2 separate regions of the Homo sapiens genome follow, and region 2 is linked to region 1. The links come from fine-mapping of genetic effects on gene expression. A gene starts in region 1. The other region holds a variant in brackets. All regions are shown on one strand. Distances are between the middles of the regions. Region 1 holds the start of ACAT1 (acetyl-CoA acetyltransferase 1). Region 2 overlaps ACAT1 (acetyl-CoA acetyltransferase 1).

Evidence for each region. PIP is the estimated chance that this variant, and not a neighbour inherited with it, causes the effect. A credible set is the group of variants that fine-mapping cannot tell apart.
Region 2: its variant is the best candidate, but not a certain one, in a credible set for the expression of ACAT1 in whole blood (TOPMed, PIP 0.64).

The regions. Positions count from the first base shown.
Region 1 is chr11:108,114,304-108,126,294 of GRCh38, reverse strand. ACAT1 (acetyl-CoA acetyltransferase 1) reads right to left here and starts at 4,728. Exons shown (of 12, transcript NM_000019.4): 1 at 4,617-4,728. The coding sequence starts at 4,688. It overlaps LOC124902748 (a long non-coding RNA gene), which reads left to right and starts at 11,913. Exons shown (of 2, transcript XR_007062878.1): 1 at 11,913-11,991. RefSeq lists enhancers at 2,052-2,111, 2,172-2,291 and silencers at 4,517-4,926, 4,528-5,066.
Region 2 is chr11:108,140,345-108,151,906 of GRCh38, reverse strand. It overlaps ACAT1 (acetyl-CoA acetyltransferase 1), which reads right to left. Exons shown (of 12, transcript NM_000019.4): 8 at 10,207-10,302; 9 at 9,357-9,470; 10 at 7,860-7,924; 11 at 5,548-5,705; 12 at 4,304-4,637. The coding sequence ends at 4,517. Among named protein-coding and RNA genes, the nearest start is that of ACAT1, 25 kb to the right of the region's middle. RefSeq lists a silencer at 970-1,138. The variant C/A (reference allele first, on the strand shown) is at 6,620.

The DNA of each region.
Region 1 (11,991 bases):
CTAGTGGCTCATGCCTATAATCCCAGCCCTTTGGGAGGCCGAGGCAGGTGGATCACTTGAGATTAGAAGTTTGAGACCAGCCTGGCCAACATGGTGAAACCCCGTGTCTACTAAAAATACAAAAATTAGCCAGGTGTGGGGGTGGGCACCTGTAGTCCCAGCTACTTGGGAGGTTGAGGTGGGAGAATCGCTTGAATCCAGGAGGCAGAAGTTTCAGTGAGCCGAGATCGCGCCGCTGCCCTCTAGCCTGTGCAACAGAGTGTGATCCTGTCTCCAAAAAAATCAAAAACAAAACAAAACAAAAAGTCTTCCCAGCTCTCCATGGCTGGCTCATTTTTATTCTTCATGTCTTTTCTTTTTTTTTTTTTTTAGACGGAGTCTCACTTTGTCACCCAGACTGGAGTGCAGTGGCGCGATCTCGGCTCACTGCAAGCTCCGCCTCCCAGGTTCACGCCATTCTCCTGCCTCAGCCTTCCAGGTAGCTGGGACTACAAGCGCCCGCCACCACGCCTGGCTAATTTTCTGCATTTTTATAGAGACAGGGTTTCACCTTGTTAGCCAGGATAGTCTCGATCTCCTGACCTGGTGATCTGCCCGCCTCAGCCTCCCAAAGTGCTGGGATTACAGGCGTGAGCCACCACACCCAGCCTATTCTTCATGTCTTTTCTAATGACACATTCCCAGAGTGGTCCACCCTAACTACTCTATTTAAAGTTACCCTCTACTTTTTCCTCTCTTTTATATGAATATCTTTATTTCCTTCAAAGCACCTCTTACACTGTAAGTATGTGGTTCACATCTTTGTTTTATTATCCACCCCTCCAACATAATACAGGCTTCCTGATGGCGGGATGGTGTCTCTTGCTCACTGTTACATCCCTATGACTTAGCACAGTGCCTAGCGCTCCTTCAATATCAGAAACGAATGACAAAATTATAGTATGGTCAGGACACTGAACCATATAGTGTATAATAATACATGCTGAATGAACACAACCCATTAAGTTTTATCTACATAACACAATTATCTTTCAGGGAGGGCTCAGCCATGCCAGGCAGAGGTCAGCACTCCTATCTCAGCTTCCACAACGCCCGTGCACATTCTAATTGTTCCAGAATATATAATTTTGTAACCCTCAGGTGGCTTTTCTCCTCACTAGACTGTGAATTCCAAGAAGAGACTGATTTTATTTATTTTCTATCCCAGTGATGGCAGCAGACACAAAACAAATATTTGAAGACAGTCTGAAAGTTACCAATAACTCAGAGAAACAAAATTTCAGCTACAGTAAATGTTATGAAACCAGCAAAATTGATCATGAACTAGAGAGTAACTGACGGCCTACTTTACATGGGAGAGTCAAAAAAGGCCTTCTAGCAATGTTAATGGAGCTGAGAAATGAATGTTAAAGAGTCATCCTTGGAAAGATCCAGGAAAAGAACATTTGAGGCATCAGGAACACGTAGGACTAAGGCCACGAATTCGGAACAAAATTGGCACACATACTAAGTATAGAAAGAAGGGTCCTGTGGCAAAAGCAGAGTGAGCACGGCAGCAGCTGAGGCCACAGAACTAAGTAGGGCCCAGCAGATCATAAGGGTCTAGATTCTGGCCTATGGGCAATGACAAGCCACTGAAAGCTTTTATGTTATAAAAAGACCACTCTGGCTGCGGGGGAACTGAGTGTACTAGGGTAAGATTAGAAAAAGGGAAGGGGGCCAGGTGTGGTGGCTCACACCTGTAATCACTTTAGGAGGCTGTGGTGGGCAGATCATCAGAGGTGGATCACCTGGTGAGCTGGTCAGGAGTTCGAGCCCATCCTGACCAACATGGTGAAAGCCCGTCCCTACTAAAAATACAAAAAGTAGCGGGTGTGGTGGCACATGCCTGTAATCCCAGCTACTCAGGAGGCTGAGGCAGGAGAACTGCTTGAACCCGGGAGGCCAAGGTTGCAGTAAGCCAAGATCGTGCCACTGCACTCCAGCCTGGGCAACAAGAGCGAAACTTGATCTCAAAAAATAAAAAAGAAAGAAAGAAATTAGCAACAGGAAGGAAGTAGCATACAGGCTGTTAGGTCAAAGGGAAGAAGCAAGGTTACCAAAGCCAAGGGGTCAGGATCCCAGCAGAAGCGGGAACCACAAGAGAGACAGACACTGCCAGATACAGACAGACAGACAAATTATTCTGGCTTCTCCCTTCCTCCTATCTTCCAATCTTCCACTGGTGCCTTCCAGTGGCTACACCCAGCCAGAAGCCAGCTGATATTGGTCAGCCTACAGTAATGCAGACAGACTAGGGGAGGGAAGATAAATGAATCTGGGAGCAAATAAGCCCAAGACTGGCACAATACAGGAATTTTTTTTTAAGTCTGAGTATTAAAAGAAGCTGAATAAAACTGGATCAAAACACAAAACAGTTTCAAGAAGGGAGTGGTCAATAGTGTCAAATATAGGATAAAGGTCAAGAAGAAAAAACTTGGGCTGAGCACAATGGCTCACACCTGTAATCCCAGCACTTTGGCAGGCCAGGAGTTCAAGACCAGCCTGGCCAACAGAACCAGACCCCGTGTCTACAAAAACTAAAATTAAAATAGATTTAAAAAAATAATTAAAAAACAAAGAAAAAGGAAATCACTGTATTTTTCAGCTTCAGTGGCAAAGAAATTTAACTGCAGAGAGTTAAGGAGAAATAGATGCAGAATACATGGGAGGTAATGAGTAAAGACCACTCCTTTGACCAGAGAGAGAAAAGTGATTAGAGCTAGAAAGGCAATGTGCTCCAATAAAGTCCATAAAGATTTGTTGACCATAAAAGAGACCTGGTAAGCAAAGGGAAAAGAGCCAATGTAATGAGAGGTCAAATTCCATTCTACAAAATAGCACAGAAAACTGGAAATCCTGTTTATAGTTCAGTAAATGACCATTTAATTCAAGTGTCCAATACAACTGCTTCCTAGAGTTCAGTAATATGAATGTCACATATCATACATTACAGCATGTACAGGCTTATTTTTTTCATGAGGAGTATTTGTGTTTCATTTTAAGATCTTTTTTTTTAAGACGGAGTCTCACTCTGTTGCCCAGGCTGGAGTGCAGTGGCATGATCTCAGCTCACTGCAACCTTCCCCTCCTCCCGGGTTCAAGCGATTCTCCTGCCTCAGCCTCCCAAGTAGCTGGGATTACAGGCGCCTGCCACCACACCCAGCTAATTTTTGTGTGTGTGTGTATTTTTAATAGAGGTGGGGCTTCACCACGTTGGCCAGGCTGGTCTTGAACTCTTGACCTCAAATGATCTACCCACCCCGGCCTCCCAAAGTGCTGGGATTACTGGCATAAGCCACCTCAACCAACCTGATTGTAAGATCTTAATTAAACCATAAATTAAGAAGGTTCTGAACTTTTTTTTTTTACATCTCTAGAGTACCTAGTTCACCTATGTCACCTAGTCAATACTGACTGAAACCCAAGATAACCTAATTACTTTCTTGTGATTTCTTCACTCATCCCATGAGACTAACAAATAGGCTAAAAACTCATCTTCCCTGGAAACCTACGCCTTGTGACTTTTCTATTATCTCAGTCACCCAGGATCAATTTTAGACTCTTTCTTTTCCCTTGGCTTCGCACCCTCACTCCCTAATTGTCAAGTCCTAGACTGGTTCTTTTACAATCTCTTGCAAAGCTCCTACCGCCAGCACCCTTGTGCAAGTAATGTTATTCTACGCCCAGACGTAAGAACTAGAGTGACCTACCATTGCAACAAAAACAAACATATCAACAATCCCTACTTAACTAGGGTCAAGTCCATACTCACAACATAACTGGATCTCCAAGCTTATTGCCCCCATCGACCTAGAAAACTCAAGCTTCACCAACCACACCCTGAAGGTCTCTACCTATTCCTGAGGCTTTGCCTGACAATCTGTGGTGCGTACTCCCTTGCTTACGCATGTGGAGAATAAATTCTTTGAGACTCTGCCCCTGCTGTGTTCCCTAAACACAACGGTCAGAAGAGCGACAGCCCTTGGAACGCCCTCAGTATGTGAGCTTTGCTCATATGTCAAGTATAATTTATTGTATTATCTGAGTAGTCATTTGTTTTCCCTGATAAATTTCAGGCTGCTCCAAAAAACATCTGTTATGATCACATGGTGCCCTCTCCCCTTGTATGCCCAATGATTATCTATTGTATTAAAAAAGAAAAGGAACCTCTCCTGACAATAACGCACACAAATATGTTTTAAAGAAAATCTCGGGAGCAGCTGCACAGGCCTGCAAAGAGACTCTCCCCGATCCCACCGCTCAGGCCGGGCCAGCGCCAATCCTGGCGGTCCTGCCCGCCCAGACACGTGCCCTTGTTTGACACACCAGTAACGCTCATTAAGATGATTACGCCGAGACCTTGGAAGTAGAAACGCGCTGTAAAAATAGGCGAGTCCCTGGGTGTTATCGGAGCACTTAGGCGGTTTTTGGACCAGAACCCGTCGCGTGACTGTCCTGGGGCCTAAGCCGCGCGCCCGGGCCGCGGGAGCCGCAACGGCCGCGGGCTGGAAGCTTCCGAGGCGGGGACTCCTCGCATCCCGGGTCTGAGTGCTGTGGGGACGAACCCCGCTCACCTGCACCAGCCTCCGGAGCAGGGGGCTGCGGCTGCGGGCGCCGCTGCGCAGAAGTGCCGCCAGCACAGCCATGGTCGCAGAGGGCTGAGTATCGGCTCCACAGGCGTAGACTAGCGGCCTCCTCCCCAACCCCGCACCCCTAGCGGCCCGGCGCGGGCACCGCCCATCCCGCTTCCTCCAATAGTCGCCTCTCAGTCGGCGGCGATTGGCCGGCAGCCAAGGGCGGGGCGGAGCCTGGCGCTGGGACACCGCAGCCTGGGCCAGGAAAGGTTGACGAGTGAAGGACGTGGATGGAGACACTGGCGCTGGGGTCAACGAGCACCTGACACGCTGCTGGCTCCCGTGTCCACCAAGTCTAACCTGCCGGGGCCGGTGGTTTATGTGTAATCCGAGATTTTTCGATTTACTGAGCATGTTTCCCTTAGGCCTACCCAGCACAAACTCATGAAAATATTTTAGGATTTTTTTTTTTTTTTTTGAGACAAGGTCTCACTCTGTCACCCAAGCTGGAGTGCAGTGACGTGACCACAGCTCACTGTAATCTCGACCATCAGGGCTCAAGCGATCCTCCCTCCCCAGCCATCCCAGTAGCTGAGACTACAGGCGAAAGCCTCCACAACCAGATAATTTTTGTATTTTTTGTGGAGACGGGGTTTCACCATGTTGGCCAGACTGGTCTTGAACTCCTGGACTCAAGTGAGCCTCCCTCCTCGGCCTCCCAAAGTGCTGGGATTACAGGCGCAGGCGACCACGCCCAGCAAATTGTTGTATTTTTTTTTTTTTGTAGAGACTAGGTCTCCCTATGTTGCCTAGGCTGGTTGCTGACTCCTGGGCTCAAGCAGACGGCCAGACTCAGCCTCTCAAAGTGCTGGGATTACAGGCGTGAGCCATCACACCCAGCCGTGAAAATATTTTGAAGCAATCAAATTCCAGGCTCAGTCCAGATACAAATATGGGTAAAAAGGCCTCAGGTGATTCCAGTCCCCAACCTTCAACCACTCCAGCTGAGACCCCAGACATCATGGAGCAGAGACAAGCCATACCCACCATGCTGTCTGAATTCATGGTCCACAGAAACGAGAGAAAACAAATGGTTGTTATTTTAGGCCATTATGTTTTGGAGTATTTTTTTTTTTTAAGATAGGGTCTCGCTCTTGTCACCCAGTCTGGAGTACAGTGGTGCAATCATATCTCACTGCAGCCTCAAACTCCTGGTCTCAGGGGATCCTCCTGTCTCTGCCTCCCAAGTAGCTAGGGGATCCTCCTGTCTCTGCTTCCCAAGTAGCTACGTAGCTAGGACTACAGGCATGCTCCACCATGCTAATTTTTTTAATTTTTATTTTATATAGAGAAGGGGTCTTGCTATGTTGCCCAGGCTGGTCTCAAACTCCTGGCCTTAAGAGATCTTCTGGCCTTGGCCTCCCAAAGCACAGATATTATAGGCATAAGCCACCTAAATAGGTCTGTTTGGGGGTAATTTTTTTTTTTGAGACAGTCTCGCACTTGTCACCCAGGCGCGATCTTGACTCACTGCAACCTCTGCCTCCTGAGTTCGCCTCAGCCTCACGAGTAGCTGGGATTACAGGCGCACGCTGCCAAGCCTGGCTAATCTTTTGTATTTTAGTAGAGACGGGTTTTCACCATGTTGCCCAGAGGCTGGTCTCAAACTCCTGAGCTCACGCAATCCGCCCCCACTAGGCCTCCCAAAGTACTGGGATTACAGGCGTGAGCCACTGCACGCGGCCAGGGTAATTTTTTAATATAGCACCCTGTCTTTAATTTCCCCATCACTCCAGGTTTGTCCCTTAAAGTCCCCTGTGATTCCTGCACCGAAGAACCTCTCTATTCAACAGCTCACCAAGGCCTACCTCCTTCCTTGGAATGTCACACTCACACCTTTCCCTTCTACCAGAGGCCAAAGACAAATATTTTTCATACTGGGCTGCTTCGAGAATTATTGAAAGGAAGTCATTACATTGTATGTCAGTGTTTAAACTTTGTGTGTGTGTGTGTGTGAGAGAGAGAGAGAGAGAGAGAAACAGATATTTCTAACTGAAAAAGTTGAATTGTTAAAGAAATGACTCAGAAAACTAAAGGTCTGGCCTCATAGAGATTACCAGTTGTGAGAGGCCAAAGCTGATGACTAGGGTATCACACAGTAAAAGATGACTGGTTAGGCTGGGCGTGGTCGCTCACGCCTGTAATCACAGCACTTTGGGAGGCCCAGGTGAGTGGATCATTTGAAGTCAGGAGTTAAAAGCAGCCTGGCCAACATAGCAAAACCCCATCTCTACTAAAAATACAAAAATTAGCTGGGCATGGTAGTGGGCACCTGTGATCCCAGCTACTCAGGAGGCTGAGGCAGGAGAATTGCTTAAACCTGGGAGGTGGAGGTTGCAGTGAACTGAGATCACACCACTGCACTCCAGCCTGGGCAACAGAATGAGACTGTGTCTCAAAAAAAGAAGAAAAAAAAAAAGACTGGTTACATAGCTATGTACATAGTTCTTAATATGAACCAGTTCTTTTACAGTTTAATTTTAATTCTCCCAAAAATCCACTGAATTAGGGAGTAGCATTATCCACATTTTCCAGAAGTTTGTCCAAGGGCACAAAGCTAGTAGTTAGTGACACAGTTGCAATTGGAATCTAGGCAGTCTGGTTGCTAGGTCTAGGCTTCTAGGCACTCACTACACTAGTTGTGTCTTAGGAGACACCTGCCCTAGGAGAAACCTAACTAGGAACATAGAAGTCAGCTGTAATTGGACAATTCTGCCATCAGAGGCACTACCAGGAAAAAGTGCCACTATGTTCATCAGGACAGCTTCTAGAGAAGTTCAGAGACATTTAGGAGCATTGAGGGGAGAAGAATAGTACATTTATTTCTGGAGCTACAGCAGGCAAGCTGCTCTTTAAAACTAAACTTCAAAAAAATAAGAGTAGCTTTATCACCAATATGAGCACCAGGCAAAAATGTAGCTAATAATTTCATTTAAGAATCTAGGACTTGGCCGGGCGCGGTGGCTCACGCCTGTAATCCCAGCACTTTAGGAGGCCAAGGCAGGCGGATCACAAGGTCAGGAGATCGAGACCATCCTAACACGGTGAAACCCTGTCTCTACTAAAAATACAAAAAATTAGCTGGGCATGGAGGGGGCCACCTGTAGTCCCAGCTACCTGGGAGGCTGAGGTAGGACAGTGGCGTGAACCCAGGAAGCGGAGCTTGCAGTGAGCCAAGATCGTGTCACTGCACTACAGCCTGGGTGACAGAGCGAGACTCCGTCTCAAAAAAAAAAAAGAAAGTGACTAGATTAACATTTCTTCTGTGAAATAGAAATGGAGTGTTGGAATGAAAATTAAATACAATTAAGAGAGAATTATTTTTGTTTGTATTTTAAAATTTATTATTATTAGTACTAGTATTTTGGTAGACACAGGTTCTCACTATGTTGCCCAGGCTGGTCTCCAACTCCTGGGCCCAAGCAATCCTCCCTCAGTCTCCCAAAGTGCTGGGATTACAGGTGTGAGCCACCACACCTGGCCAAAGAAAAAATTTAAAAACATTTTTTGCATATCTGAATTTGTGGCTTTGGATTATCATTCCTGTCATAGCAGGCAATAGTGTCTGGACAGATGTATTAATGAAGAGCTACTCAAAAAGTGGTTTATCTGGGATTTATTACATTTGTCAAGGAGATCTAGTCAATACCTCCATCTAGTGGCAAACTTGTAAGTGGAGACTTAGGTCTTGCAAAGTATTATTAAAATATTGATAAAATAAAGCCCTCTGAAATGTCCATGAGACCCAGAGTGGCTTTCTAGAAGTAGAAGTTAGTTTTAGGAATATTAGAGCAATATTTTCACAGCAGGAAACTAGTGGAAAATTAAAAACATTTAAGAAAAACTTGTGGGTATTATATTTATAATACAAAGATGTTTGATATTCATTTCCAAGTAAGTTCTTCTACAACGAACAACTTCTGTCAAACTTAGACTACTGGAATAACTCGTTGTACTACGTTAAACAGTGTCCTTCCAAAAGATATGTTTGTTTAAGGGACAGGGTCTCTGGCCAGGTGTGGTGGCTCATGCCTGTAATTCTAGCACTTTGGGAGGCCAAGGAGGGCAGATCACCTGAGGTCAGGAGTTCCAGACCAGCCCGGCTAACATGGTGAAACCCTGTCTCTAGTAAAAATACAAAAAATTAGCTGGGTGTGGTGATGGGCTTCTGTAAGCCCAGCTACTCAGGAGGCTGAGGCAAGAGAATCGCTTGAACCCAGGAGGTGGAGGTTGCAGTGAGTCGAGATCGTGCCACTGTACTCCAGCCTGGGCGACAGAGCAAAACTCTGTCTCCAAAAAAAAAAAAAAAGAGAGAGACAGAGCCTTGCTCTGTCACCCAGGCTGGAGTGCAGTGGTGCGATCATAACTCACTGCAGCCTCCTAAGCTCAAGTAATCCTCCTGCCTCAGCCTTCCAAGTAGCTAAGACTACACGTGTGTCACCATGCCCACCTAATTTTTATTTTTTGTAGAGATGGGGCACTCACATTTCCACCCACTTTCTCTTCAAGGCAATCTAGGCTTAGTCTATCATGTGCCTCAAACTTCTTCCTCTGCCCATCACCCCAATCTATTAATAAAGGCACTTCCATGTTTGTGTATATTAATATGGCAGCACCCCACTTTTCAGTACCAAAATCTGTATTTGTTTCCTAAGATTGCAGCAGCAAATTACCACCAACTGGGTGGCTTAAAACAAAAGAAATGTATTTTCTTACAGTTCTGGAGGCTGGAGTCCAAGATCCAGGTGTTGGCAGGATTGGTTCTTTCTGTGGGTTCTAACGGAGAGTCTGTTCCATGCCTCTCTCCAAGATCGTGGTGGTTGTTGGAAATCCTTGGTATTCCTGGCTTTGTAGAGGCATCAGTCCAACCCCTGTCTTCTCCCCTGTGTGTGGCTTTTTCTCCACTCTTGCTATAAGGACACTGGTCATTGGATTTAGGGCCCATCCAAATCCAATTATGACCTCATCTTAATTTGATTACACCTGCAAGTTCTCTATTTCCAAATAGTCACATTCATAGGTACTTCGAGTTAAGACTCTAATATATCTCTTAGGGGCCAGGTGTGGTGGCTCAGGCCTGTAATCCCAGCACTTTAGGAGGCCAAGGCAGGAGGATGACTTGAGGCCAAGGGTTTGATACCAGCTTGGGCAACACAGTGAGACCCCCATCTCTATGAAAAAAATTTAAAAATTAGCCGGGGCCAGGCATGGTGGCTCATACCTGTAATCCCAGCACTTTGGGAGGCCAAGGCAGGAGGATGACTTGAAGCCAGGAGTTGGAAAACAGCCTGCTTACATTAAAATGCAAGTGGAAGGAGGTAAATTGAGGTAGGAATTGTTACTGGATGGAATGTCTTAACTGTGAGTTGTCCAAGTTCTTGGTGTATTGAACAAAAAATTGAACAAAACGCACTAACAAAGCAACAAAAGAACGGGCTAATGAAGGCACAGATTTATTGAAGAAGCCGAAGTACAATTCACAGGGTGGGAGCAGGCTTGAGCAAGTGGTTCAAGAGCCTCTTCAACTGGGGTTTTTATTAAGCTAAAGGAACCAAGCAACTCCCCTCAGTGCCCTTTAGAGGACTCCAATTGGCCACAGCCCATGAAGGATTGGCCTGTGACCAGAGGCTGACGTGGAGGCTTGGCACACAATCAGAGGCTGATGTGGAAACTTCTGTCTCATTATCACAGGAGCAAGGATGTGGCCTGTGTGCTGCCCAGTTTTGCCTAGACCTGGCTGCACCTGCTGTTCTTTTGTTTCTGCCTTAACCCTTGATGGCCTGAATTCCCTATTCTCCTGCCTCAGAATTGTTAAGCAAAAAGGAACCAGGACTTGATGATTTGGAAAATTCTCAGCCTAACTATACTGCCAAGGAGGAGAAGTTCTGGCCTGAAGAGTGTGTCTGGACAATAATTTGCTAAAGAGAGTTGTGTGACTCATGGATCCACTCAACCGTGTCAGCGAAGCCAGGAATAGAGTTGGGGTTATCCAGGAAAGATCCGTGGAGAACTTGAGAGTTCTAATGGTGTGCATCCCCGTGACATCAACAGAAAACTGACAAGATTTTTGAGAATTTTATACCAGCAGAAATACTCCCAGCCTGGATAGAAAGGGACAGAGACAGAACAAATTGAAGGGAAAATGACTGACTCCCAGGGCAGAGCCATGGATACAGAGGCCAGAGAGGACGAAGCTATAGGTCCAGAGGCCCAGGCCAACTGCACCCCCTGGGCCCAGAGGCTGGATCGAGTCAAAGGGTCATTAAGGCCTTGAAAATGAATGTAGTTTTCCCTTTTGTGTTAAAACCTGTGTGAGACAGTGACCCCTTTAATTCCTTGCAAATTCTTTCATAATGGAAATGTCTGTCCTGTGCTTGCCTCATCGCAGTCCCTTTGTGCTGCTGTAACAGACATCTGATTATTACTGGGTAATTTATAAGTAATAGAAATTTACTACTCACAGTTCTGGAGGCTTGGAAGTCCATGATCAAGGTGCCAGCATTACATGTCTGGTGAGGGCCTTCTTGCTACATCCTCATGTAGCAGAAGAGCAGATGGGCAAAAGGGCACCTAAGCGGTTCCTTCCAGCCCTTTTGTAAGGCACCAATCCATCCATGAGGGCAGAGCCCTCGTGGCCTCATTTCCTAAGGGGCCCACCTCCTAATACCACAACAAGTTTCAACATGAATTTTGGAGGGGACACATTCAAACCATTGCACCCACTGTTGTATTTTGGAAGCAGATAACTTGTTTCCTAGTTTCACATGTCCACAGTTAGGAGAGGAATTTTGCCCTAGAATGTATCATATCATACCTAGAGTCTCAGTGATACCTGGTTTGCATGATTTAGATAATGAGATTCGCAATGTTTTGAGTTGACTATACTTAGAGATTTTGGATTTATAGTTAATGCTGAAACAGGATTTTTGAGGATGTTGGGATAAGGCGAGTGTATTTTGCATGTGGGATGAATGTGAATTTTATGGGGCTAGAGGATTGACTGTACTGGGTTGAAGTGTTCCCCCCAGATTCACATCCACCAAAACGTCAGAATGGAACCTTGTTTGGAAACAGGGTCTTTGAAGGTGTGATTAGTTAAGATGACGTCACACTGGTGTACACTGGCCATAAATCCAATATGACTGGTGGTGTACTTATAAGAAGATGGACAAAAAGATGGCCTCAGGAAAGTGGAGGTAGGAACTGGCGCACTGCAGCAATGAGTTACGGAATGCCACAGATGCTAGCAACCCCCAGAAGCCAGAAAAGGGCAAGAAAGGGCCCTTCCCTGGAATCTTGAGAGAGAGAGAGAGAC
Region 2 (11,562 bases), 26 kb before region 1:
GTTTAGAAAGGTAAAGTTTGATATGTATTCAGTCTTATACTGTTTGAATCCTGTCTTTGCTTTAATACTTTTTTCACAAGTGTTTGTTTAATCCATGAAACATTATTATCTTGGTCATAGCTTTGGCTTTTTTTCTGCCAAAAAAAAAAGTACAAAGTAGACCATCATAAAAAGTAGTTCTTTCCCCATTTTAACAGTTTCTGCCTTCTCATAATTTATGATACATGCAACCCTTTTTACTTTTTTTTTTTTTTTTTTTTTTTTTTTTTTTTTTTGAGACAGAGTTTCGCTCTTGTTGCCCAGGCTAGAGTGCAGTGGCATGATCTCAGCTCACCACAACCTCCACCTCCCTGGCCCAAACGATTCTCCTGCCTCAGCCTCCCACGTAGCTGGGATTACGGGTATGCACGACCACGCCCGGCTAATTTTGTACTTTTAGTAGAGACGGGTTTTCTCCATGTTGGCCAAGCTGGTCTTCGAACTCCTGACCTCAGATGATCCACCTGCCTCGGCCTCCAAAAATGCTGGGATTACAGGCGTGAGCCACCTCGCCCAGCCTCTTTTTACTTTATTATTGGATTTTAAAGCTGTTGTCTTATAGTAACTTAAGATATGGAACTGTAACCATAACAGGTCCATTGCCCATTGTGCATGACAAGTCAGTATGTAAGACCCTGGGCTGCAGCAAAGAAAGATGTTTAATTGCAGGGCCACCGAATGAGGAGACTGGAGGAAACTTCAAATCTCTCCCCGAGGGTTTAGGAAGTGGGCCAAGGTGCAGCCTGTTTAGTGCCTAGTTATAACTATATTTCTGTCCAGGACCCAGCATGCAATTCTTGTAAGTCCCGTGAGGGCAGTCTCAGAACTTGTCCTACTAGCGTTTACCTTTATTTAGCAGATAAAGATAACATGTTACCGATATTTCACCATGTAAAGGCCAAGGGAAACCAGGAGGTAGGTGTAAAACACAAGAAAAAAAAGGAAAATACAAGGAAAAAAGGAAACTCAACATATTTTAGAATACTTCACTGAAGGTAAGTAGTGCATCCAAAGGTTGGTGATCTGGAAAACATTTGAAAAGTGCTCTGAAAATTCTGGGGAAAAAATGGAAAGGAAGAGAAAAAATAGAGAACCAGAAAGTAAATGGTATTTCTTTTCTTTGTTTAAGAGACAAGGTCTCCCTCTGTCCCCCAGTACAGTGGCAGGATCATTTCACTGTAACCTTGAAGTTCCCCTTGGCCCTCTGAAGGTTTGCTGGAAAATAAAGCTGTTTGCAAAAGGCAGATTAATTGGAGAAAAGGAATATACATTTATTTAATGTTGTATACATGGGGGCCTTCAGACAAAGACCTGACCCCGCCCCCAGTGGGGTGTAGAAACTTTTTTTTTTTTTTTTTTTTGAGACAGTCTCACTCTGTTGCCCAGGCTAGAGTCCAATGGTGTGATCTTGGCTCACTGCAACCTCTGCCTCCTGGGTTGAAGCGATTCTTCCACCTCAGCCTCCTGAGTTGCAGGGACTACAGGCATGCGCCACCACGACCGGCTAATTTTTGTATTTATAGTAGAGACAGGGTTTCACCATGTTGGCCAGACTGCTGTCGAACTTCTTACCTCAGGTGAGCTGCCCATCTGGGCCTCTCAAAAGTGCCAGGATTACAGACATGAGCCCCTGTGTCCGGCCAGGTGTAGGAACTTTATACCATCTTCAGGTTACAGAAGTAATGTGAGCTCCCAGCATGGCCAAAAACATGTTATTTTGGTAAATCAGGTTTTAGTGGCAACACAGGTTACGGGTAGGGAAAGGAGACCTGGCTAGGAAAGGTGGTCTTGTTAGAAGCTTTCTGAGAGAATGGATGTTAAATGTTTAAGACCTTTAAAGGTGTCAGACAGGCTCTCATTTAACCTTTTCTAGATTCCAGACAAGGGAAGTCCTGGCTGCATTAATGGAGATTCTCCATAGACGCAGATTTCTTTCAAAAAAGACAGCTTTGCAGCACCACTTCTGTTTGCTGGCCCTCTGATAGCCATCTCAAAATATGTCAAATAAATATAATTTGAGGTAAAACATTTTTATTTCCTTCAACCACTACCTTTCCTTCTTCCCCAGCCAGTCCTTAAGCAGTCATTTAAAAAATTAGAAACTTTCACCTAACTGAATTCTTAATTCTTCATTCCATGGGCTTGCCTAAACCTTTGTCATTTTTGGAGGAAACATCAGAGTACTTTATTTTCTAAACTTTTCTGTGTTTGAGACACACCTTTTAGTATCTTATTTTGTTTCATTAAAAACAGTTAGATGTCCTGTCACTTGTTTTCTTGGATTGAATGTAATAGAAATAAGAACTGTGGCTACCTATTTTTCTAACTAGATGTTAGAGGAATTTAATACATTTTCTCCAGAATGTCTTAGTATGATTTTCTGCTAATTAATTTTGCCAATAAAATATGCTCTTTAGGGCTGGGCGTGGTGGCTCATGCCTATAATCCCAGCACTTCGGGAGGCCGAGGCAGAAGGATCACCTGAAGTCAGGAGTTCGAGACCAGCCAGGCCTACATGGCAAAACTCTTCTCTCTACTGAAAATAAAATAGCTAGGTTTGGTGGCGCATGCCTGTATACTCAGGAGGCTGAGGCACGAGAATCGCTTGAACCCAGGGAGCGGAGGTTGCAGTGAGCCAAGATCGTGCCACTGCATTCCAGCCTGAGCTACGAAGCAAAACTCTGTCTCAAAAAAGAAAAAAAAAAAATGCTCTTTAAAATCTTCCCCCTTAGGACTTAAAAATCTGAGTTTTTCTATTATCTTTATGTTTTCTGTTATATTAAATTATTGCTTCAGAGTATCTTTTTTTTTTTTTTTAGGAAACACCATTTAAGCTGTGCATGGTAGCATGTGCCTATAGTCCTAACTACTCAGGAGGCTGAGGGAGGCAGATCACTTGAGAACCCAGGAGTTCAAGGTTACAGTGAGCTATGGTCATGCCACTGCACTCCAGCCCAGGCGACAGAGCAATACCTTATCTCTTTAAAACAAATTAAAAAACCTACTTACTTGATTCTCTGTTTCTTCTCTCTTTTCCATTTTTTCCCAGAATTGTCAGAGCACTTCTCAGATGTTTTCCAGATCAATGACCTTTGGATGCAATGTTAGTTTCTGCTTATCTTCAATGAAGTATTCTCATGTTTTGGGTTTCCTTTTCTCCTATATCTTATCCAGCTCCTGGTTCAGTTAGAAGTTTTTGTAAGTCGGGGCAGATAATTATTGAAAGGCATTTAACTAAAGCATAGTAAGTTAAGAACGTGGGCTCTGGAGCTTGACTAACTTGGAGTTGAATCCTAGCCAGCTTTTTGCCCTTGGAATTTATTTAGCTACTCTATGCCTCAATTTCCTTGTTTATAAAGGAGGGATAATAATGGTACCCACTCTTAGAAGTTTTTGTGACAATTAAATGAGTTTATACATATAAAGCACATAACAAGCCTCAAAAGTTGGTGATGATTACAGATGTTTTTGAAAATACTCTACTCTTCCTCTGAATCTGAAGAGCAATCTAATCTATTTCTCCCATATATTGTCATTTTGCTCCTTCAAAAGATCTACAATACATTATTTGCCAACAGATAATGTGTACACAATGACCTTTACTGCCCCCTCCTCTTCCTGAGGGGGAGTTTTCCCTCTTCAGAGCTGCAATTGAGGGTAGTGTGCATAGCCCCTGCCTGTAGCGTTTTAATTAATTAATTTTTTCCCAGATAAAATGCAATGCGAGATACTTCTGTTACAGTCTGTCCTGCTTAAGAACAGGCATTGTCGTGTATTGGAAGTGGTGATCTGTTCCCTTTTTTATATATCCATTCAGCATATCAGTTTCTACCTCCCTTCCCACTCTCTATGCTGCTATAGTAATTCAGAGCCCAAACTCCAGGGTTTTCTGCTTGACCTCCCCCAACCCTGAATGTTGAGGTTATAAGAAATTGCCCCCACTCTAGACCCTGAGGACATGGGCTTCTGTCTTGTTTCTAGTACTGCTGCACACACTGTGGTTTGAGTGATTATATGAAGCACTGCTAGTTTGTCCAGAATAGCCAACTCTTACTGTAAAGAGAAGTAATTTAATTTACCGTAATTTACTAAATGTAAATTACCTATAAAGAGCATTCACTTGACCTTTAACAATCCTCAAAAATATAAATGTGTTCTCACAAATGGAAACTTCTAGCTACTTATGTAAGTCACTAATATTACACATTGGTATTTCTACCATATTTCGATAAGTATAGACTCAGAATGCAAAAATGTATCAAACTTTTCAAGGTTACCAAGAAAAAAGCAGAAGAAGAAATTTATTTTTAATTTCAAAATGTTTTGGGATTTCATCATTTTGATTTTTAAAAGTTAACATAGAAAATAATAAAAAATGAAACAGCTTATCTGAATATAAGCTGACCCACAGTAGTCACACTGATTACAGCAGGCCTTCTGGTCACATAGGGTTGTCTCCTTAAATAGCAGAGGTTGTCTACAGCTTCTGAATTAGCATGGCAGAAGCACCTCCTCCTCCATTGCAAATACTGGCAAGACCGTATTCTCCTTGCTTCAAGGCATGAGTCAAATGACCAACAATCCTGGCTCCAGACATCCTAAAATTAAGAAAGCATTTACTTCTTTAATGAAGTACAGAATTTATGACTAACCAAAATGTTTCTATTCCAATTTAACTTCTTGAAAACCTTACTAGCCACTACTACTTGCTGAATTAACTACTACTATTCTAAAACTAAAACTTGGAGGACTTGTTTCAGGAAGGGTCACAGATCTTAGATCATTTTTTGAGATGGAGTCTCGCTCTGTCGCCAGGCTGGAGTGCAATGGCAGAATCTCAGCTCACTGCAACATCCACCTCCTGGGTTCAAGCGATTCTCCTGCCTCAGCCTCCCAAGTAGCTGGGACTACAGGCGTGCACCACCACACCCAGCTAATTTTCGTATTTTTAGTAGAGACAGGGTTTCGCCATGTTGGCCAGGATGGCCTCTATCTCTTGACCTCGTGATCTGTTCACCTCAGCCTCCCAAAGTGCTAGGATTACAGGCGTGAGCCACCGTGCCTGGCCAGGTCACAGATCTTTTAAAAGTACAGAACAGTATAATGGATAGAAGAGTAGAGTATAATGGAAGAGGGATGTGGGATAAACTACATATTGGGTGACTGACAGGTGCACTGAAATCAGCCCCCACCACTATAAATTCATCCATGTAACCAAAACCCACGGTACCCTAAAGCTAATGAAATAAATAGGAAGGAGAAAAAGGGGGTAAAAAGTCTAAATGTACACTTTTTCTTCTTCAGCATAAAACATTATTAGGTTTCAAATAACAGATGTGACAGGTCTCTGTTCAGTATTGGATACCATCTATCAGAAATGGTTTTTGCCTTATGAAAGATGGGTAGGAAGGAAAACTTAAGAGCAATGGGAATTATGAAGCAGTTTTAAGTTTAGCTAGAAACACAAAGGCAGCTCTTAACCTAGATATAGTTATTATTTTTACCTACCCAATTGGATGTCCCAGAGAAACAGCTCCTCCATTGATATTCACTTTTTGGGGATCAATCTCCAACATTTTAATGTTTGCTAGTACAACCAGACTAAAGGCTTCATTTACTTCCCACATTGCAATATCTTCTTTTTTCAATCCCACATCTTTAAGAACCTTAAATTTTTTAAAAGACAGATGATGTTCAAATAATTAGCAATCACAACTTACTGTCATCATTTCCTTGAAATACTACAGTTTGACATAAGTTATTTAAATATGGAAGTTCTTGGTTTCAGATGGAAGGATCTCTATTTTCAGATTTTTTTTTTTTCCAACAGTCTTGCTCTGTCTCCCAGGCTGGAGTGCAATGGCGCCATCTTGGCTCACTATAACCTCTGCCTCCCAGGTTCAAGCAGTTCTCCTGTCTCAGCCTCCTGAGTAGCTGGGATTACAGATGCCCACCACCATGCCCAGCTAATTTTTTGTATTTTTAGTAGAGACAGGGTTTCACCATGTTTGGCCAGGCTGGTCTCAAACTCCTGACCTCAGGTGATCTGCTCACTTCAGCCTCCCAAAGTGCTGGGATTACAGGCGTGAGCCACCGCACCCGGCCCATTTTCAGATTTTTAGTTGCTCATCTTATTCCATTATATCAAAGAATTTTGTTTGCATTATGTCTGTTTTGACATAGGGGACAGAAAATTTGATTTTCTTTCCACAGATATTTGAAAAGGTACATTTTCTATTTAGGGGCACATAATGCTTTATATATTCTTAAGCTCTGCTTTACTGATTGTGTGTTGCTTGGTTCTATATTCTTTTTTGTTGTTGTTGATTTATTTTGAGACAGGGTCTTGCTCTGTCACCCAGGCTGAAGTGGAATGGCACAGTCATGGCCCACTGCAGCCTTGACCTCCCAGGCTCAAGCGATCTGCCTCCCAAAGCGCTGGGATTACAGGCGAGCGCCACTGCACCCAGCCATTTCTATGTTCTTGACTGTTAATGAAAGAGGTATATTAGTTTCTAATATTAGTGATATTAATGCATCCCCTGCAGTTTCTGCTTTATAAATGTTACTGTAGGGTTAT[C/A]TGGGCCACAGATATTTACATCTGTTGCAGTTTCATTGTAAGTCATTTATTTAAAATCTTACACTATATGATCTGTTTTGTTTTGGTAGTTCCTCAGCTATGCAGGAAGGTGTATTTGTGCCAGTGATTATCCCTATGCTAATACTTTTTAAAACATTACTAGTGAGTGCCCTAAAACATTACTAGTGAGTGCCCTTTTTCTTTACAGAAGAAATTTGATTGTTGTGAGCGATAATAAAATTAACGTGGAACTCTTCCTCCATCTTCCTCTCTTCTACTAGTGGACTAAGGGTAGCTTTCTAGCCTATACAGCTCAAACAGCTTCCACTGTTCCAACAACACAAAACAAAATATGGTACCCATATATAGCTATGTCTGTAGCTCTCAGAAGTTATTCTACCTTCAGAATCCAGAATTGTTTATTACCCTTGCTTTCCAACGTGATGTTACTCACTTTCAGAAGCTGCGTGTTCCTTTCATTTTCTGAGATCTGCTAGCTCTGAGCAGATCATCACTCCACTGGCCCCTTGTTTCTGATCTTCTCTATTCTTGTTTCCTACTGATTCTGCAGTTTTTTTTTTCATTGCGGGGGTTGGGGGCAGTGGGGAGAATCTGATTTTACTAAAATTCTGCAATTTTTTTTATCTGGGTGCTTACAGAAGTTTACTGTCAGGGTGAGGCCCTCTCAAAAGGAAATATTTACTTAAGATTTCTAAGAACCCTGAACCCCTAAAACTTTCTTTTCCTGTGACTGCTTAGCAATTTCCCACTGAGACTTGGATAGCCCTTACTGACAATTTGGAATATGTAGGTTTTCTGTCTCTAGTTTTACTATTTACTCTGAAGACCTGCTGCCAGCTGTTCCCTTTCAGAATGGAGTCCTCTCCTGGGGAGTGACTAGTTGCTTTCCATTCTAGATCTGGAACCATCAGCCAGCATTCCCTCCGCTTTGTGGTTACCACACCAGGTGTGTGAGTTCTGTATGATACTTACAAGTAATTCAGATGTGTAGTTTTACCTGTTCTACTGAAGATGTAGTTTGTGAGCTGTTCTTTATTTTTTTTTTTTTGTTTGTTATCCTTGTTGCTCTTACTCTTTTCAGGAGAAGACATGGGAAGATTTGAAACCAAGCTATCTCTCTGCTTTGGCAGATAACATTTAAAATCTTAAAAACTGCAACCTTGGTATAAGCAAACCAGAAGCTAGCATAATGGAGTATCGCCCCTCACTTTGTTCTCACCATAGATGCAGCATATACAGGAGCAATTGGAAAATCAATAGGTTCTACAGCAGCGTCAGCAAATGCTGTTTAAAAAAAGGGGGGGGGGGGTTGTTAAAATCTTTTTTTTTTTACTGTATAGAATATGCACAAGCCAAGTTTAGCCCATTAAATGCACATTTCCTAGCCCCTTTAATATATGTAAATATATGTCTTCCTTTTCTAGGATTCTACACTTTATAAAATTACTCCAGTAATCTAAGACACTGATTTTCATTGGGGGGGAGTTTGGGGGTATTTGCCTCTAGGAACATTGGCACCACCTAGAGATGTTTTTGGTTGTCAGAATAGTTCAGATGCCACTGGGTAAAGACTAAGGATTCTGCTAAACATCTACAATGCATAGAACAGTCCCTACAACAAAGAATTACTTAGTGCAAAAGTCAATAGTGCTGAGGTTAAGAAACCATGATCTAAGCTAAGAAAAAAAATGAAGTTATAAGGCTTTTTATAAAGTAACAAAATAGCATCTGTTAAGTCCTTAGGAAGAAGGCAAGACAGATTTCTGCAGCTAAAAATCGGCTTAAGGACATTGAGAACTTGCCCAAGGCCACAGAGTTAATAAATACTAAAACACCACACATGTAAATTTTGTATTTCTGGACTCCTAATCCCATATTCTTTTTTTCCTACATAGCTGCCTCTGTAGGAAAATGCATGTACTTTATTTTCTGCTATTTATCATACAGGACAGGAAGTTTTTTAAAGCTTAATTTAAAAAAAAAGAAAAAGAGACAAGATCTTGCTCTGTTGCCTAGGCTGGCTGCAGCTTTGACATCTTGGGCTCAAATGATCGTCAGCCTTAGCCTCCTACGTAACTGGGACTACAGGCATGCTACCACACCTGGCTAATTTTTTTCTTTCAGAGGTGGGGTCTCACTGTGTTGCCCAGGCTGGTCTCAAACTCCAGGCCTCAAGCAATCCTGCCTTATCCTCCCAAAATGCTGGGGTTACAGGCGTGAACCACTGTGCCCAGCCCTTAAAGCTTAATCTTATATAAAGTATAATGAAAATATTAAAGGAGCTTCTATCTCAATTGAAATATGTATCAATTAAATTCTGCCACAAGTACAACCTAGGTAGTAATACTTAATATTGGAGTTGGCTATATCTAACAAGTAAACTCAATTTCATGAAGAGCTTATAGATGTTTAGAAACCTTATTTTTTTTTAAGACAGGGTCTCGCTCTGTCACCCAGGCTGGAGTGCAGTGGTACAATCTCAGTTCACTGCAACCTCAAACTCCTGGGCTCAAGGCATCCTCCCACCTCAGCTTCCCGAGTAGATGGTAGTACAGGCACATGCCACCATGCTCAGCTAATTTTTTAACTTTTTGTAGAGACGAAGTCTCACTATATTGCCCAGGCTGATTTCGAACTCCGGGGCTCAAGCAATCCTCCCACCTCAACCTCCGAAAGTGCTGGGATTACAGGTGTGAGCCACCTCGCCTGGCCTTACCTACTATTCTTGCCAGTGGTGTAACATTGAGCCTCTTCGCTGCATCTGCCGTCATGAGAACCAGAGCAGCTGCTCCATCATTCAGTGTACTGGCATTGGCAGCTGTTACTGTGCCTGAAAGCAAAAATGAGGTTGAAGTCAAAACATTCCTTCACAATAAATGTATTTGGTTCAATTCAACAAATACCTATTGCCTGGGCTGCTAAATGTTTAAAGAAATTACAAATATGGGTGGAGACAATTCCTGCCCTCAGGAAACATGTACACAGCTAACTGCAAGACAATGTAAGAATGCCTTTTTGTGTACATAAAACAGTTTTCTCAAACATCACAAACATGCATGATGGCACTGGATAAATGCTCGTCTACAACTCTTGAAACATAGGGACCAGTTAATATTTTTGTCTCCAGGGTCTAACTTTCCTTATTCAATATATAGCAGGTACTCACTACATATTTTTCAAATCAGATATTTATTCTTATCTAGAATCACCTGGAGATAAATATAAATGAATGTTAAAAACTACCAAACCACTTTAAATAGAAGAATGTTATTATGGTATATAAATTATATCAATAAATCTGTTTTTTTCAATGCCAATGAAGACCCTATCATAGACTGCTACATATGAAAAACTGAATTCTATAGTCATGTTATACATATCTTCCCTGGGATTTATATATTGAAGGTATAAACTACCAAAACAATTTTACATGAGCCTGATATACTGAAAATGTTAAATAACATCTAGATGTTTTCTAGAATTTTTCAAAATCCTTAGGCAATTCTAAGAACTAGATATGGTATACTGGCTCAATTTTTTCTTATGCTTCATTTCTTAACACTAACCATTTTCTTTCTGGAAAACTGTCTTCAGCTTTGGAACTTTGCTAAAATCAACACGTTTATATTCTTCATCTTCTTTCACCACTACATCTGGTTGACCTAAAATAAAAATATTTTAAGTAAAATCGCTCAAAACAAGTAGTCATTCAGCAAGCAACTGTTGTACAAGATGCCTAGTAGTCTGTGCCTCCCTTTGTATCCCTGCTTCACTTAAACCATCCCAAGTAAACACTCATCTAGAATCTGTTAACTATAACCTCTATTATGTTACCATCTTAAAAAGAGAAACTTACAAAGTAGCTTCACAATTTTTTTTTTTTTTTTTTTTTTTTTTGAGGCAGGGTTTCCCTCTCCTGCTTAGGCTGGCATGATCACAGTTTACCTCATCCTCTCCAGGCCCATGTGATCCTCCCACCTCAGCCTCCCAAGTAGCTGGGACTACAGGTGGGAGCCACCACAGCCAGCTAATTTTGTTTGTTTGAAATGGTCTTGCACAGTCTCCCAATAGAGTGCAATGCTACAAACCTAGCTCACTGCAGCCTCGGACTCCTGGGCTCAATTGATCCTCCTGCCTTGGATTCCCTAGTAGCTGGGACTACAGGCGTGTGCTGCTATACCCAGCTAATTTTTAATTTTTTTGTGTGGAGGCCAAGTCTCACTTCGTTGCCCAGGCTGGTCTCAAACTCCTGGGCTCAAGCAATCCTCCCACCTCGGCCTCCCAAAGTGTTGGGATTACAGGTGTGAGCCACTGCACCCAGCCACAAAATTTAAATCTTCTACACCTCCATGTCCCCTTTTCTTCCTCAACTCCCTTCTATGATCACAGACCCCACTCTCCTGACCCCAGAGGCAGCTGTCTGACCTACACTAGATAAGCTCTAGTATTCTGTCACCTAGAGCACAGTAATCATTCCTGGAATAGAATTGTAACCTAAAGCAAGTTAATGAGTCTTCATTGTGGATTTATTCTGCTGGAACTGGTGAGAAAGTCTCTCCTTTTTGAGAACCCTATATATGTGACCCTAGAGGTAGAGGCAGCAACTTTAGAAAGGCTGAGAGAATAAAGCACAAAAGCCTGCAGGTGTGAGAAGCCAAGAGAGCATGTCTTAGTAGTAGTGAACACCCAGTTCCAATCCCTGAAGTTCCCAGAGCTGAATGGTTGCTACTGTTCATCCTTCAGTTCTTGGAGGCACTCCCGGTAACCTTCTAGTAAATCCCTTTTCAATTTAAAATACCGTATTGACTGTCACAGGAAAAAGTTCTAATAAATTTCTCAAATTTAAAGTAATACTCAGGGATCTTATAAATGGATTGAAATCTGACATTAAGTTGGGTAGATTTATATTCTCTCTGAACTGG